2 separate regions of the Homo sapiens genome follow, and region 2 is linked to region 1. The links come from fine-mapping of genetic effects on gene expression. Tissue or cell type: hypothalamus. Region 1 holds a variant in brackets; the other region holds the start of a gene. All regions are shown on one strand. Distances are from middle to middle.

Region 1 (8,101 bases):
CCTGAGAAGCTTTACAGACTCAACTATGTCCTGAGGCATTGTCGGAAGTGGCAGTGTCATATCACATCCCAGCTCAAAGGAGTGCATTTTGATGAAGATTAATATAGTTTAAAACCCCTCCATTCCCATTGCAGAATTGCCACAATCTCTTTCCTGTGTTTTCCTCACTCCTCCATAATCAGAAAAGTTCATTATAAGCAAGCGTCCAGAAACTATAAGGAAAGGTAGAGAAGTGAGCCTGCTAATGTTACTTAACCCCCAAGTAGACTTTTTACCCCTGAAGTGTCACATCTGGGAATCTTTTCAACTCATCTCTAGGCTCTTGGCACCATGTGACATGCATGTGAGCACTGCAAAAACTCTTAGATGGTTTCAGACTGCTCAGGCCTTGTCAGCAAGGATATCACAGAAAGCAAGACAGGCCTTCCTGGCATCCTGCATTACTAGGTCAGACATATGTCTAAATTAGAAAAATCATAGTTCTCATCTGGGAGAAAGCAGGGGCAAATGTGCTGAAACTGAGGGGCCTGGGTCCTCCTGGAGATTCATCCAGAGATGAGGAAGAAGAGTCTGCAACCATGCTGCAGAGAGAGATCTTGGCCCTTTAAGCTGGGTGAGAAGCATATACCCCAGTTTTGCTTGATTGGCCCCTTTTTAGGCCTGCCCCCACAGTGCCTCATTCTATTTTTATGTTAGACACTGTTTCTCTTTCGTATTGCCAGATGCCCTTTCTACTGTGGCTCACCAAATCCTCCAGCAACAGCTGTTCTACCAGCCCACTCTCGGCTACATGCAGATCGAATGTGATTCATAATTAGTAAGAATACCTAAGTGTGTCAGGAGCCTGAAGCATGTAGGGAGAGCATATTCACTCTCTGGACTTGACACAAGTATCCTGATTGGCTCCAGAGTGTTCAGTGCTAGATGACTCTTCCTTATCTGGATACAGTGGCTGTCAGCCTGAAAAGACCTTCCCTGTAGCAGGAGTACTAGGAGAGCCTCAAGTGCCTGGCACCACATAAAAAGCTCCCGGTTTCTTTCTTTGTTTTTTTTCTTTTTTTTTTTTTTTTTGAGACAGAGTCTTGCTGTGTTGCCCAGGCTGGAGTGCAGTGGCGCGATCTTAGCTCACTGCAACCTCCGCCTCCCAGGTTCAAGCGATTCTCCTGCCTCAGCCTCCTGAGTAGCTGGGACTACAGGCGCATGCCACCACACCTAGCTAATTTTTGTATTTTTAGTAGAGACAGGATTTCACCATGTTGGCCAAGTTGGTCTCGATCTCCTGACCTCGTGAACCACCCACCTTGGCCTCCCAAAGTGCTGGGATTACTGGTGTGAGCCACTGCGCCGGGCCAAAATCTCACATTTTCTTAAATAAGGCAATAAGGAAAAGCTACTGGCTTTGAGTTGTTGCCTAAAGTCCTGCTCTCACTCCTGTTCTTTTCCACATGGGCCAGAACATAAAACTATGTTTTCTGTTTTCCCTGCAGGTTCTCTGTGGTCCCTCCTTGCCATTCGTAGACTTATTTCATTCTGCAGCAGTGTCCATTTAAGGACCCATTGGTCAAATTGCAGTTGTCAGTACTAGGACAGGAGATAACAGTCCTCTTCCTTGTCTTCAAATAATCCAGGACAGTCTACACTTGGGAGTAGTAATCCATTCTTATCTGGAACATAGGAGCAGACAGTAGGTTTATAATTCAGGAGTTTACAGATGTAAAATATGTTTTGAAAAAACAAAAACAGGCCACAAACTTAGCATTTGATTTTTGTATATAGGCAAACAATTCAGATAATGATTACAACAAAATGACATACACTGAATATGTGCTGTTTCAGACACTGCTAATTTAATCCTCACAATAGTACTGTTATAGTTGATACATGCTTTTATTCTTGTCATCCTTTTTTTGTAGATAAGGGAAAGTTAAATATTTTGCCTGAGGTAGAAGGTGAGTATCTACCTTAGAATCTGGGTGAGCCTGACTCCAGATCCCTCACATGTAACAGATGATATTGCTCCCTTTGCACCAGGGCAGTGAGCATGCATTGATATGCTTTTAACCCAACTTCAGTTTCTCTTAAGTCCTGGAGTATGTAGAAAAAGGCATGGCCCCAGTTTAGTAGTTCTCACCAAATTCTTAAAAGATAAGAGCCGATCAAGAGATCTGAAAATACAACTAAGCCAAATATAAGAAACCATCAGGACAAAGATATCAAACATTTTAATTGTGCAACTTGAACCCGTACTGTTCAAACTGTGTATCCATCACAGTGCTCCTTGAATCCTTGTAATTAGATCTCAGAAGACCCAGACAGAGCTGGCATTCTGGGGCTGTGCAGGTGTCCTTGCTGATTGCTGGCATCCTGGCTACAAGCCCACCTTCTCATTACGCCTTATATCCCTCAGACCATCCCAGGTCATTCTCACTGTCTCTTGGCAAAATCCCATAACTGTTTCCAAGAGAAAATGAAAGCAGAAAACAGGAAATAAGGGAGTAACAGCAAGTTCCATTATATTCCAATCTGGGCATGGATTAACTACGTTTGCGTTTATAGTCCACATTCTGCAGTGCCTGGATAGCCCATTTTGGAGCATTAGATGCACTGTTACAAAAATGTAAAATTCCACAGAAAAAAAACCTTGCAGGATAATTTCCCTACATTGCTTCATAAATAATGGCCAAAGCTGAGAAAGTTATCAACTTAGATTAGAATTATATTAATAGAAGTCAGTTTGTAGTCTAATTTTTTTTTCTTAAATTCCCTGATTTTTCTATGTCACTTCTACTTCTTTTTATTGCTGTTGACAAAAGGAATGCCAATCTAAAAATTAGTCCACGGTTTTTAGTGGACTAATTCCCTCACACTACAATTTTAATTTAACTCTACCCCTGTGGATTTTTCACAACCTTAAACAATCTCTTTGACCTTTTAGTATACCTGGAAAATAATTAGTCGTAAAATATTAGTGAAATGATTTCTTCAAATCCTCTCCACTCTAGAGATAATATCTCCATTTTTCTTTATTCTTCTTTTAGTGCAAATTCCTAGGAGAAAGTCAGCCCTCAATTATTCCCCTAGATGTGTCTTCAATGTTTAGTGATTCAGCTTTGCCTTTTTTCTGCTGATATATATCTTCCTTTGTCTGAAATATAGTACAAATCTCTCTCCCAGAAACTTCTGGGTATTTCTTTCTATATACTTGAAAGTGAAGCATATGGAGCCAGTGCTTGGTTAAGGCTGGATGTAAAATTAGTTCTTTAAAATAAAATCCAAGTCATAAAACAGTATTGGGTAATTTAGTGGCCTATAGTACTTATGTCTGGTCTTGGAGGCAAAGAATAATCAATTTCCTATAGCTAAAATAGAAAAAGACCAATATATTGATTTGTTTAGGAACTAAATTAACTCCCAATGAATCAGCACATA[C/T]AAATAGTTGAAAAATAAACCAGTCTCTTAGGTGTATTCAAACATTAATTACTTAACCATTTTTATTTATTTATTTATTTTTGAGGGTCTCGTTCTGTCACCCAGGGCAGAGTGCAGTGGCATGATCACAGCTCAGTGCAGTCTTGACCTGGGCTCAAGCAATCCTCCCACCTCAGCCCCTTCTGCCCCCCACCCCCGCCAATTCCCTGTTCCCCACCAAGTAGCTGGGACTATAGGCACACGCTACCGTGCCCAGCTAATTTTTGTGTGTTTTGTAGAGATGGGGGTTTCACCATGTCGCCCAGGCTGGTCTTTAACTCCTGGGCTCAAGTGATCTGCCCACCTCATCCTCCCAAAGTGCTGGGATTAACAGGCGTGAGCCACTGCACCCAACCTAAAAAAATTCATTCTAATGTTGATATGGACCTACATGAAAAGTCTGAAAATTTCCCATTGAGAACTCACTTTTTCAATTTAACAGTATATTAAGAGGGAACCATGTCCCCAAAATAACAAGCCCTTTCGAAAGCCTGGAACACCCACTTAAAACATGTTCATCCTTAGGCAGTCTCTTTTTGCAGGAGCAAAATTCTTTACCTCCAAAGTGAAGGAAAAGAAAGAAGATAGATACGCAAGCTTGAGTCTTGCAGCTTAAAATTTAAAGGAATCAAACCCAAAGTTTCCTGATGCCAATTTATATCCCAGGTTTTCGTCTTCATTTTGTTTTCTTTTTCTAAGATCCTAGCTTCTTCCTTTCCAAATTTGTCTGTTGAAGTTGTAATTTTTGCAGTTTAAATGATTGGATGACATCTTCAGTAGGGTCAAAGGAAACATTAGCGATTTCTTTTTCATCTTTTGTCTCTAGAGACTGACTTTGGAATATGTTTTCCAGATTTTTTGGTGGCATCTCTGCCACTAAAGAGTTATGCCTAGAAAACTTTTTTCACAAATAAGGGAACACAGGATGCTGGAAGCCATGGCATTGTCCAGAGAGACAATCTGGACATGGGTTGGAACTACAGACAAGGGAGCTAATGGCAGACTTTGCTTGGTTCCTTAATTAGGATGTCCAGTTGAGTCTGATCCGATTCCACTTCTGCTCCCTGCATCCCCTTTGAACCTCCTCAATAGTCCACTCTTCACTATGTTCTCCAGAGTGTAGGATGGGTGGACACTGTCCCCTCTCCATGTTCTTCCCCATGGTGTGAAGTGCCATGCCTCTCTCCATGGCCTTAGGGACTGCCTTTTTTCTTACCTGCCACACACTCCCCGCATTTGTTGGGAAGGGATGAAGAGGGTCAGTTGGTGGAAGCCCTGAGAGTGAAGCCCAGTTCAGAGTCTGAGCTAGCAGGGGAAACTGGGACATAGTGGGGAGATTTGGTTTCTGGGTAGCTTAGAGCTTGGGCCAGGGATGGGGATTATAGGTGGGATCCATGGTGAGCATGAGGAGACAGGGACAGGATTGGCCTCAGCTTGAGGGTATCAGAACCCCCTGGCAGGGCACTCTCCACAGCACCTTCCAGAAGCAGGAAGATTAGGAAGCTCAGGGTCAGGGTCAGGGCTGCCAGATACATATTAGTTATGTAGCAGACTGGACCTCCTTACCACATTCTTCTCAGGATTTGGGGAGTCAGGCATTTCCCAGATCTTCTCATCTGTGACCTTTCACCTCTGCTGCACTGACAGCAGCACACCACCCCTGGGCCCACCCCTCCGGTTTTGTAGATCTGGACCTCTGCCTCAAGTTCTCTCAATGCCTGTCATTTCTTCCTTCAGTTCTATCATGCCTGTGACCAGCCAGGCATCGTGGTTTTCTGCATCATGGACTACGATGTGCTGCAGTTCTGTGATTTCCTGGGCTCCTTAATGTCCGTGTGGGTCACTGTCATTGCCATGGCTCGTTTACAGCCCGTGGTCAAGCAGGTCAGTCCAGAGTGGGCCCTGGGGAACAACCATGGCCAAGTCTCCTTGAAATCCACTCCTGACCTCTCCCTGGGGGCATTTCCAAGTGCCTCTCATGATTCTGACCCAGGCCCTGGAGTGCTGTCTGTCACCTGGCCCTAGCCCAGCCCTTGAGTCTCTTTCTCTAGGTGCTGTATTTGCTGGGAGCTATGCTGCTGTCCATGGCTCTGCAGCTTGACCGACATGGACTCTGGAACCTGCTTGGACCCAGTCTCTTCGCCCTGGGGATCTTGGCCACAGCCTGGGTAAGGGTGGGGAGGGATGTGGGGGGAGGGTCCCAGCAGGACTTGGGTGCTGGGCCCCAGGTATCTGGTCCCCAGTTTAAGGTGGGCTTGGCTCTGTCGTCATCACCTGCTGCTGGCAGTGTCCGCTCCAGTCTTGGCAGGTGTCTTTAGGTCACAACCAGGATACAGAGGAAACCTGAGAGTGACCAGCTCTGGCTTGGGTTCCAGGGCTTGGCATTCCTGAGCCCCACTTCTCTGTCTCCCCCAGACAGTACGCAGCGTCCGCCGCCGGCACTGCTACCCACCCACGTGGCGCCGCTGGCTTTTCTACTTGTGCCCTGGCAGCCTTATTGCAGGCAGTGCCGTCCTGCTTTATGCTTTTGTGGAGACCCGGGACAACTACTTCTACATTCACAGCATTTGGCATATGCTCATTGCGGGCAGTGTGGGCTTCCTGCTGCCCCCTCGTGCCAAGACTGACCACGGGGTCCCATCTGGAGCCCGGGCCCGGGGCTGTGGTTACCAGCTATGCATCAACGAGCAGGAGGAGCTGGGCCTCGTGGGCCCAGGAGGGGCCACTGTCAGCAGCATCTGTGCCAGCTGAGAGGGGCTTTGGGCCTGGCCCTGAGGGGATATGAATGCTTCCTAGAGTTCTTTCTGGGGGTGTGGAGCCCTCTTAGAAGGAGACAGGCTGTATTTCTTGAGGACATGGAGTCTTTCTCAAGGACACAAAACTCTTCCAGGGACCTGGAGCCCTTCCCAGGACATGGAGAACTTCCTGAGGGCCTGGAGTCCCCCTGCATCATGGAGTCCTTCTTAAGGACTGGAGCCTATGCAGGCACAGAGTCCCTCAGGACCAAGGAGTCCCTCCTGCAGGTGTGGAGCCTTTCCTGGGATGCAGAGCCTTCCCAAGACATGGATTCCTTCCCAGGGAGACAAAGCCCTGTCAGGAGCACAGCATCTTTCCAGAGGAGGTGGAGTCTATCTTGGGGAAACCAAATTTCCAGATTTTCCCAGAGGCTCAGCAACTCTGGCCTCAGGCTTCCTTCCCAGAGGCAGCGTCTGGGCTGTGCTGTGCTGTGGAGGAGGGATTGCAGGATGGATGGAGCTGGGACTGGGGCTGTCTGGGTGGCTGGTATCCTCGTTTGATACAGGTGGAGTCTGTGTGTCTCCAGTGATTGATTGGTTCAGAATGGTTCTGTGATGCCTTTTTTCCCCCTGGGGTCAGGGGTGTGGGGAAGTGGGGAAAGAGGGCCCCTCAGGGAATCAGCAGGGCTGATGGGAGCTACTGCCGGAGGCTTTTGTCACACCCTGTACACAGTCTGATCCCGCTCATCTGGGCCCTGCATTCATTTCTAAACAGTTTCTAATGCCTATTCCCCAATTCCTATTGAGCCCGATTTGCAGTATCTGAGGGGTGTGTGTGTGTGTGTGTGTGTTTATGTATGTATACGTATGCTGAGATGATTTAAATCAGTGAGACAGACTTTCCTTATGATGCCCACACCCAACACAGAAGGAAGCCGAGGTCCCAGGAAATTGGAATAGCAGGTACACGTCTCAGGTGTGCAAGAAATATCACAAGAATGTAACTTCTGTTTTGAGCCCCCATTTTTCCTGAGTGCCAGAAAAGATCATTTGTCCATTTGGGATTCCTTCTCTTTCCATGAGGGTCATAGCTGAGTTCTGAGGGTCTTACATAATGCCAAGAAGTTGGGAGAGCATTCTCACTGATCACCAGTGTCCATACTTCATCCATCCCCGGGATTTCCATCATTCCATCTGGTCCCCAGTCAGAGGTCCAGACAGTTCATCTGGGATGCAGAGAGATTTCTTGTTCCCATTTGCATTACTCTCTCAGTCCTAAGGTTCTCTCTGCCACTTCTGGGCCATATGTGGAGACCCGTAAAGTTGTCTAAGGCCTTGGCTATGCAGACACACCTTGAAGCTGTTTCTGCTCTGGGTTTTGACAGACAAGGCATGAGTTGCTGCATCTGTTAAAACTGCAAATCTATCTTGGCCTGGGGTGTGGAGCTCAGGGACTCTTCCTTTTGGGACCCTCTGTGTCAGTATTCTCACTACATCCTCTCCTCCTCTCTCTTCTTTCCCCCTTTCGTTAATATTGGAGGTGAGGAAGCCTTACTTAATGTTTTCTCCTGAATCTTTTTTTTTTTGAGACGGAGTTTTGCTCTTGTTGCCCAGGCTGGAATGCAATGGTGCGATCTCAGCTCACTGCAACCTCTGCCTCCCGGGTTCAAGTGATTCTCCTGTCTCAGCCTCCCGAGTAGCTGGGATTAGAGGTGTGCACCACCAAGCCCAGCTAATTTTTGTATTTTTAGTAGAGATGGGGTTTCTCCATGTTGGTCAGGCTGCTCTCAAACTCCCGGCCTCAGGTGATCCACCCGCCTCGGCCTCCCAAAGTGCTGGGATTACAGTTGTGAGCCACCGCGCCTGGCCTCTCCTGAATCTTTTATCTATGCCTTAAG
Region 2 (8,101 bases), 23 kb before region 1:
CTCCCGAGTAGCTGGGACTACAGGCACCTGCCACCACGCCCGGCTAATTTTTTGTATTTTCAGTAGAGACGGGGTTTCATCGTGTTACCCAGGACAGTCTCGATCTCCTGACCTCGTGATCCGCCCATCTCGGCCTCCCAAAGTGCTGGGATTACAGGCGTGAGCCACCGCGCCCAGCCGACCCTTCTGTGTTTAATAATTTTAGTTCAGCTACCTGTCTCTACCTGGGCTTTATATGAATCTCCCCACTTTTTGTCTGCATCCACCCTTGTATTCCTTGGCCCACTTGCCTGCTCCTTTTCCAGGCAGGTGGTATAGCCATTTCCAAAAGGGGAAGCTATCTGCTGAATGTTCAGGTTCCCAGATCTTTTGGATTAGAGGATGCCCATGGGCCTGTCACAGGCCTCTGAAAGGCCACATGGGCTCACCTGTCTGGATGGCATTCAGGGCTGCATCCTTCTCCCACTGGAAAAGATTGTTCACTTGAGCACCAAACTCCTCTCTATGCATTGCCTTAGCCACTTCCACCAGCTCTGTCTGCCTAGCAGGGAACACTGGGCGGGCTGTGTTACCTAGGATGGGAGAGGATGAGTAACCAGGGGGAAGTGAGAAGGCCCTAAAACTAAGAGAAGGGGCCATGTCCAAGAGTAACCCAGTCTCCTCCTCCTGGGGCAAGTCAAGGACAGTGAATAGTAGTGAGAACAGGACAGGGGAGAGGACAGGTACAATTACAGCTAACTCCTTTCTTCTTCTTCTTCTTGCCTAGTTGGTGTCCAGGTTGGGCTGTGTGAGCAGTGCTGTCACTGGCATCTACTCCCTTTTCAACCTCTCCTGCTTCTTCCTCCTGCTTTTCGGTTGTGTCCACTTGGACCTGGGATGAAGGGCCTGAAAGACAGTGTTCTGGAAGGCTCTCAGATTCAGAGAGATGGGTAGACCTCCTTGTCCATGGGACCTCATTGGAAGAAGACTCAGAGGAGAGGTCTTCCTTCAGAGTATCAGAAGAAGACAGACAGACATAGTCTCGTGATTGGGGAGGAAGAGTAAGGTGTTTCTCTGGCACCACTGAGATGGGACTATCCAATGAAGCCTCATAGGTAGGGGTCTCTGAAGGAGTCTCAGAGATGGAAGGCTCCTGATGGGTTTCAGGGGAATGGGCCTCTAAGGGGATCTGGGAAGGGGATGGCACCAAAGGGGATTCAGAGGTATGGGGCTCTAACGGGGTCTCAGAGGTGGAAGGCTTCAAGAAGCTTTCAGAGATATGGTTCTCCTGTAAGTCCTCAGCAGAGGGGTCCTTTGAAGGGGGGTGCTTCTCTGCATCCATGGTGATATGAGGCTCTTCTATGATCTCATGTGCTTCCATCTAGTGGTAGAACAGGGTACAGGCTTCATTAGGTTGGAAATAGAGGGCCGGCAAGTCAGGGCAGAGCCCAGGGTTCGCAGTGCATTATGGAATTTGGATAAGGATATCAGTGCAGCTGAGATATAAGAGGGAAACAACATGAACTCTGGGTCCTAGAGTGTGATGCCAAAAGGTTCACCCATGTGTCCAGACCTCATATGGCATGCTGCTGTGGCTTGTTAGGGAGCTGGAACTTAAAGATTGAAAGACTGAAGTAGTTCGAATCCCATCAGTAGATGGTAGCAGAGAACCATGTCCCAGGAGGGAGTCTGAACAACACCACTTGGGCAGTCCAAGAGCAGGGTCCTTGGCATATCTTAAAACCCTGGAGGTCAGACCATGGAGTTCTAGAGACTGGCAATACCAAGCCAAAGTTGGGGTTGGCTCCTGAGAGTGCAGGGGAATGCTGTCACATAAGGCAAGACACTGCACGCAGCCTGGTTTTGTCTAGGCACCACACACATCCTCCTCCCTTAATGATGTCATTCATGTTCAAAGCTTTAACTACTTCCAGTTGTGTACCAATGACTCCTAAATTCACATTTCTAGCTCAGACCTTTTTCAACCTCTGTACTTCACACTCATACCCACCTGCCTGCTGGCCTTCTCTTCTCTTCTCTTTTTGTGATGGAGTCTCGCTCTGTTGCCCAGACTGGAGTGCAGTGGCGCAATCTCGGTTCACTGCAACCTCCGCCTCCCGGGTTCAAGTGATTCTCCTGCCTCAGCCTCCCAAGTAGCTGGAATTACAGGCGTGTGCCACCATGCCCGGCTAAGTTTTATATTTTTAGTAGAGACGGGGTTTCACCATGTTGGTCAGGCTGGTCTTGAACTCCTGACCTCAGGTGATCTGCCCTGCTTGGCCTCCCAAAGTGCTGAGATTACAGGAGTGAGCCACCGTGCTTGGCCCCTGCTGGTCATTTCTAACTGAGTGTTTCCACAGACAGCAAAACTGAACTTTGGGAATTATCCTAGTCTTTTCCTTTTCCCTTAGACTCCATCTTCAAATAGGCACCAATAACTCTATTTCCTATCTTCTAAATATTCCCCAAATGCATTCTCTCCTCTCCCTTCCAATTTTATTCAAGTTCTCATCATCTTCAGCCTTTGTGTAATAACTTTGCCCCTCTACTTCCATCCACAGCATTTTAATCCATTCACCCATTCTTTCATGGATTTATGTAACTTATACTTTTACAATGAGCCTAATCTGATGCTTTTACTGACCCGCTGTGCTAAGCTCTAGATTGAGTTGAGTCTAGGAGAGAGACCGATTAACCAACAATGGCAATACAAATAAATTGATGTTGTTCTGGGGTGAGTCTAGGATACGGTGGGGAGGGGGATATACCTAATTTATCCTGCAAGGATGTAGTCCTCCTTCCTGACCCAATCAGGATCTTTCTAAAGTGCAAGCCCAACAACTGGCACTTTGTGGCTTAAAAACATTCCATGACTCAGTCTAAAGGATTAAGTCCAAATTTCTTGGCCCTGGCATTCAAGGCCTGTCATCATTTTCAACACAGCCTGAGGATTCCTGCCTTAACTTTCCGTGCTCCCTACTTTACCCCCATGTTCCAGAGACGCTAGATATATCACTCCTTAAATGCATCAGAGCCTTTTTGAAGGGGATGTTTGGGAAGGGAATTAGGGGCAGAGGTAGGATTACAGGGAGGAAGATGACCAGAGTCAGCTAGAGAGAAAAGGGGCCTAAGAGTGGAGAACCAGAAGATGGGAGGTGAGGAAGGGGAAAGAGAAGGGGAGGAGGAAATTGGGTGGAGGAGGAGAGTAAGGATGAAAAGTACAGAATGTGGGCCAGGCATGGTGGCTCATGCCAGTAATCCCAGAATTTGGGAGGCCAAGGCGGGTGGATCACTTGAGGTCAGGAGTTCGAGACCAGCCTGGCCAACATGGTGAAACCCAGTCTCTACTAAAAATACAAAAATTAGCTGGGCATGGTGGCAGGCGCCTGTAGTCCCAGCTACTGGGGAGGCTGAAGCAAGCAAATCACTTGAACCTGGGAGGCGGAGGTTGCAGTGAGCCCAGATCGCACCACTGCACTCCAGCCTGGGGGACAGAGCGAGACTCTGTCTCAAACAACAACAACAACAACAACAACAACAACAACAACAACAACTACTACTACTACTACTACTACTACTACTACTACTACTACTACTACAACAATGTGAAGGGACTGAGGGGTGGGAGAAAGACAGATGTCTTTGAGGGAAGAGGGCAAGGGCCGTTGGAGAAACCACCTACCCTCTGGGCTTTGGCTTGGTTGTTACAAGTCCTTAGGTCAAGACCTTGACTTAGGATGGCAGGGGGAGGTGTTGATCCTCAGGGAGGAAAGGCTCTTGGTTGTGGATGTGCCTCAGCTGCAGGTGCTGAGTGTTGAAATGCCTTGCCTGAAAGTCTGCTATCTGGGAAGGGGACTTGGATATCTGCAGAACTTCGCAAAGGAGCTCTGGCATGACCTGGGGAAGTGGGTAGGGACAAGGGGTCTAGGGCCAATGAGGGAGGGTCTTGACTGAAGCCTCCGGAACCCGGGCCAGGAGAGTAGGCGCCGGTCACCAGGGCAACCGGAACGCCTAGTAGTCTCCGTGGCAACGGCGGTCTGGTCACCTCCCCGGTGGGTAAGGTCTCCTGAGGGGCTTGCATTGGGCCTCGAGGGGGCGAGCCCAGAGGGTTTACTTCTGAAAAGTGGGGTGTGTGTTGCGGGATCTCTGTGAGCGAGTGTTTGGGTAGGATCTGCGGAGATCTGTGCGTACGTCCGGGGGAGTCTGGGATTGTGAGGATAGGGTTCCTTTGAGACATCTGTGGGGCGGTCGTTGGGGGCTGTGAGGATCTGAGGGGACCTCGGGCTCTGTGCTTGGGGTGAGAAAGGCAGGGTCTCGGGTAGCTGAGGCGGGGGCGGAGTCTGTGTGTCCTCGAAGCCCAGCAGGACTAAGTTGGGGACCAATAGAGTAGGGCGGGGGCGGGCTTTACTGACAGGGACCAATCGAGCCGGCCGGGGGGCGGGGCGTCACGCCGACGTCAAGTCGAGGCCGCCGCCGCGGGGCCTGGTTATCGCCGGTTCAGCGCAGCCCGGAGTCGCCCAGGCCTGAACTCCTACCCAGGTCCCCGGCCCCCGCCCCGGGCCCGCGAGGACACCGGAGGCCACCCCCCGGGGGTGGGGAGCGGAGCCGCGGGCCAGCTCTGCGAGCGCCCCGCGCTGGCCTGTCCGGCCCCGCCCCCGCCCCGGGCCATGGCCCAGCCCTTGTCCCGGCCCCTCGTCCTATCCCAATCCCCGCCTTGGCCCCCAGCCCCGCCCTCGCCCCGCTTCCCACATCGGCCCCAGCCCCTGCCTGGGTCCCCATCCAGGACCCCCTTCCAGTCTCTGCCCCTGGCCTGGCCCCCATCCCGGCCTCGGCCCTCGTTCCACCCCCTGTCACAAATCCCAGCCCAGGCCCTGTCCCAGCCCCATTCCCAGTGTTTGCTTAAGGCCCTGGCTCAACCCCGTCCCTTGCTGCAGTCCCCATCACAGCCCTTCCTTCCATCCCACTCCCTGCCCTTGTTCAAGCCCCAGTGTCCAGCCCAGCCCAACCCATTATCTCAGCCTTTGCCCTCATCTCTGTGTTTACCCAAGTCTCTCCCTCTAGTCCCCCCTATCTCTCATACTCTGCCCCTCTCCCAGCCTAGACTCAAGTCTGGGTTTCAGCTGCCGCCAGCCCTATTGCTGCTGTTGCTGTTCTCTGTCCTTGGCCCAGGGGCTGGTGAGTGCAGAAGCAGGGAAGATTGAGGCAGGAATGGGGTTCCGGCAGGGAGGGGTGGGCTGGAGAGATTCAGGAGAGGTGGGACCTGGGGAACTAGATCATTGGGGAGCAAGTGGGAGAAATAGAGAGTAGAGAGGTCTTACACAACAGGGATTGGCAGGGTCAAAAGAGTGGTAATTAATTGGGTTTGAGGCTCAGCAGGTGGCTTACAGTTTCTAGCACAGAGACTCCAAGATTTTTTCTGGTGTCTGTCCTGACCCCACTTTGACTCTTGCTTTTCCAGGGAAATGTTGTGGGCTTTGCTCCTGCTCACAAAGTTTGATGGGGGAGAGACAGTCCCACACCAGAAGCCCCTAGTGTAGTGTGGGAATATATAGCCCAAACCTTTGAGATATTGGGCATGCATTCAAACGGCATGAAGAAGAGTTTTAAAGATAATATGTAGCAAATAGATGAATATGGATTAGTTGCCATTATAATGAGTTTTCTTCTTGTAATGATTCTTGTTCCAAAGAAGATTGATTTGCCTAGGAATAATTCCTGATACTTTTAGAGCAGGGCTGAAACTCGGAGGCTATTTTACAGATGGGGAAACTGAGGCTCAGGGAGGGAGCAATTTGTCCAAAGTCAGAGAGCTTGTGAATGGCAGTGTGCTGGGGCTAGAAAAAAGGTTTCCTAATTCCTATTTCATACTAGTGTGTTTTTTTTTATCCACTGCAATGTATACTTAATAGAAAAATAGACCCAAGTGGGGAAAGGCTCAAAGCATAACCTCCCTTCTCCCCGGTCTGCCCACAAGGGTGCTTTATCCACAAACTGTTCCTTATTTGCCAGGCGTCAGCCAAGGGCCACCCTCCGGTGGGGAAGTGACTTGGACAGAAGAGAGAGAGGTCCAATTTTTTAATGGTTGGAATGTGGGAGGAGGAGGGGGTGTCCTGGTCTAGGGGATGTGCCATGAAGATGGCTCCATCATGGAGTGACTGTAGTCTTCATGGCCCAAGTCTGTAGCCACCTCTGGTGGGTGTCACTCTAGATAGGATGGAGATGTGCCTGATGGAGTCTTTGGAAATAACAGCCAACAGAACAGCTGGGGGGTGGAGAATGGGTATCAGTGAGCTCTGGGGGCCTGGTTCAGTGTACAAACTTAAGGAGACGAATGCACGTGAAAGGTCACAACCCCTGCAGAGATGTCTGGTCACTTATGTGTATGTGTGTAACTGAGGGATTGTGGGGAGGCTGGCAGCATGTGTACATGCTTGTGTGTTGTTAAGTGTAGACACGTGCATGTGTGTGGGGTGCATGTGAGCCAGTGTATCTTCTGAGCGCCTGTGTTATGGTATGAAGGGGAGGGGACATGTTGTGGCCCATGTACATTCCTCTTCAGCTCTGCCTCCTCCTCATATGGACAGATCACTGAAGCTGTGAATGGGGCTGGAGACCCTTTCTCAGCAGTTCCAAGGGTGAGGGCAGTGTTGCATGCCTCCCATAACGAATATAAGTTATCCATCCATCCCCAGCCAGTGCCTTTGAAGGAAGGAGCTGTGGAGGCACTCTGTGTTGATTACTGCTGCTGGCAAATTGGACACTGGGCAGAGGCAGTAGCCAGTCAGGTTTTCAGTTTTGGTAAGGGGAAGTTTATGCTGTTGGGCCAAGTTCCTAGCTTCCATCCTCTGCCATCATGGCTTCTTCATGTGCCCATTGAGCAAGCATTGGGCTGGTGAGGGGAGCAGGGTGACCGACAGCCACAGAGCATATACAGCTGAAAGTTGTGGATAAAAACACTGTTGCCCAGAAGCAGGTTCAGGTGCTTTGGGGAGAATTGTAATGAAGTTGGAAAAGAGTACCAATACACCCAAATGGAGGCAGGGCTGCCTTTAGTGCTGTTAATAATGAATGCCTTGGCAATTTTGGACCAAAGTACAGGGTGCTCTGTGACCTAATGGTGGTGATGGGTTTTGTCTGAGGAGAGGCTGGCAGTGTCATAGGACCATCATGGCACAGGGCTGCACAGTGCTTATTGGTTGCTTCGGTTTCATTTCAGGAATGGAAGTTATCTCTTGGGTCTAGTGGTCCCACTCCTGATCCTTGGATCTTTTCCTTGGGCTTAGTTGAGGACTCACACGTGCCTTGCTATTCAAAAAAAAATGGGCTTTTATTCTACCTAGTGCTATTACTAGCAGGGCCAGCCTCAGCCTATGTGTGTAGGTGTAGGGGTGTGTGTGTGTGTGTGTGTGTGTGTGTGTGTATGTGTATGTGTGTATGGGGTGGGTGATGGTCGGAATTACCCTAGCTTCATCATAGAAATATTGGGGAACCTGGAATAAGTTCATCTGAACTCGGTAAGGGCCTTACTCATGCTTCTTCTGGACACAGCTCTGGTAGGCCCTGTTCAAACCGCAAACCAAAGTTTGGAGTGAATGGGGCTGTGGACCCTTTCTCAAGCATCTGCCCTCAGAACTTCTTCCAAGTTCCTCCTAGCATTCCCAGCTGCTGCTCACTCCTTTATCTCACTGGCCTATTCTGTGACCTCTGTAGCCCCTGGCCACTGTGGGGATGGCTTAGCTAGTTCCCCAGTTCCCCAGGCCATACTGTGATCCTTTGAATTACAAGGATCTTTGTGCTTGTCTGTCCATGTTTCCCAAAGGTCATTAAACTGCTTTTCACCACTAGCCCTCATCTGAGGGTCTGCACCGAGGGACTGACCAACATTTCTCCTAACGGTAGCAATGGTTGATCAGATGACCCATCCCTGGTACCAGCTTTGAGGAGGATCAGCCCTTCCCTAACCCCAGCAGAAGGTGCGCTAGAGTTCTGATTTCTTCTAACAATAGTATCCAGGCTGTTCACCTCTTAGCCTTCTGCCTCCTACTTAGCACAGCTAGGGTTCCTAGGAAACCCGTCTCTTCCATCAGTCGGTCCCATTTCCCTTTATCCCTCTCGGCTGCAT

What was found. PIP is the estimated chance that this variant, and not a neighbour inherited with it, causes the effect.
Region 2: it holds the start of TMEM8B, and the variant in region 1 is fine-mapped to the expression of TMEM8B in hypothalamus (GTEx, PIP 0.99). The same link has a PIP of 0.9 or more in spinal cord.

Annotation. Positions count from the first base shown.
Region 1 is chr9:35,847,622-35,855,722 of GRCh38, forward strand. It overlaps TMEM8B (transmembrane protein 8B), which reads left to right. Exons shown (of 13, transcript NM_001042590.4): 11 at 5,206-5,352; 12 at 5,520-5,636; 13 at 5,884-8,101. The coding sequence ends at 6,219. Among named protein-coding and RNA genes, the nearest start is that of OR13J1, 19 kb to the right of the region's middle. RefSeq lists enhancers at 424-563, 754-823, 854-973. The variant C/T (reference allele first, on the strand shown) is at 3,430.
Region 2 is chr9:35,824,802-35,832,902 of GRCh38, forward strand. TMEM8B (transmembrane protein 8B) reads left to right here and starts at 4,427. Exons shown (of 13, transcript NM_001042590.4): 1 at 4,427-5,154. The coding sequence starts at 4,647. It overlaps FAM221B (family with sequence similarity 221 member B), which reads right to left and starts at 3,931. Exons shown (of 7, transcript NM_001012446.4): 1 at 3,662-3,931; 2 at 763-1,360; 3 at 429-572. The coding sequence starts at 1,360. RefSeq lists enhancers at 1,296-1,655, 5,019-5,519 and a silencer at 4,284-4,733.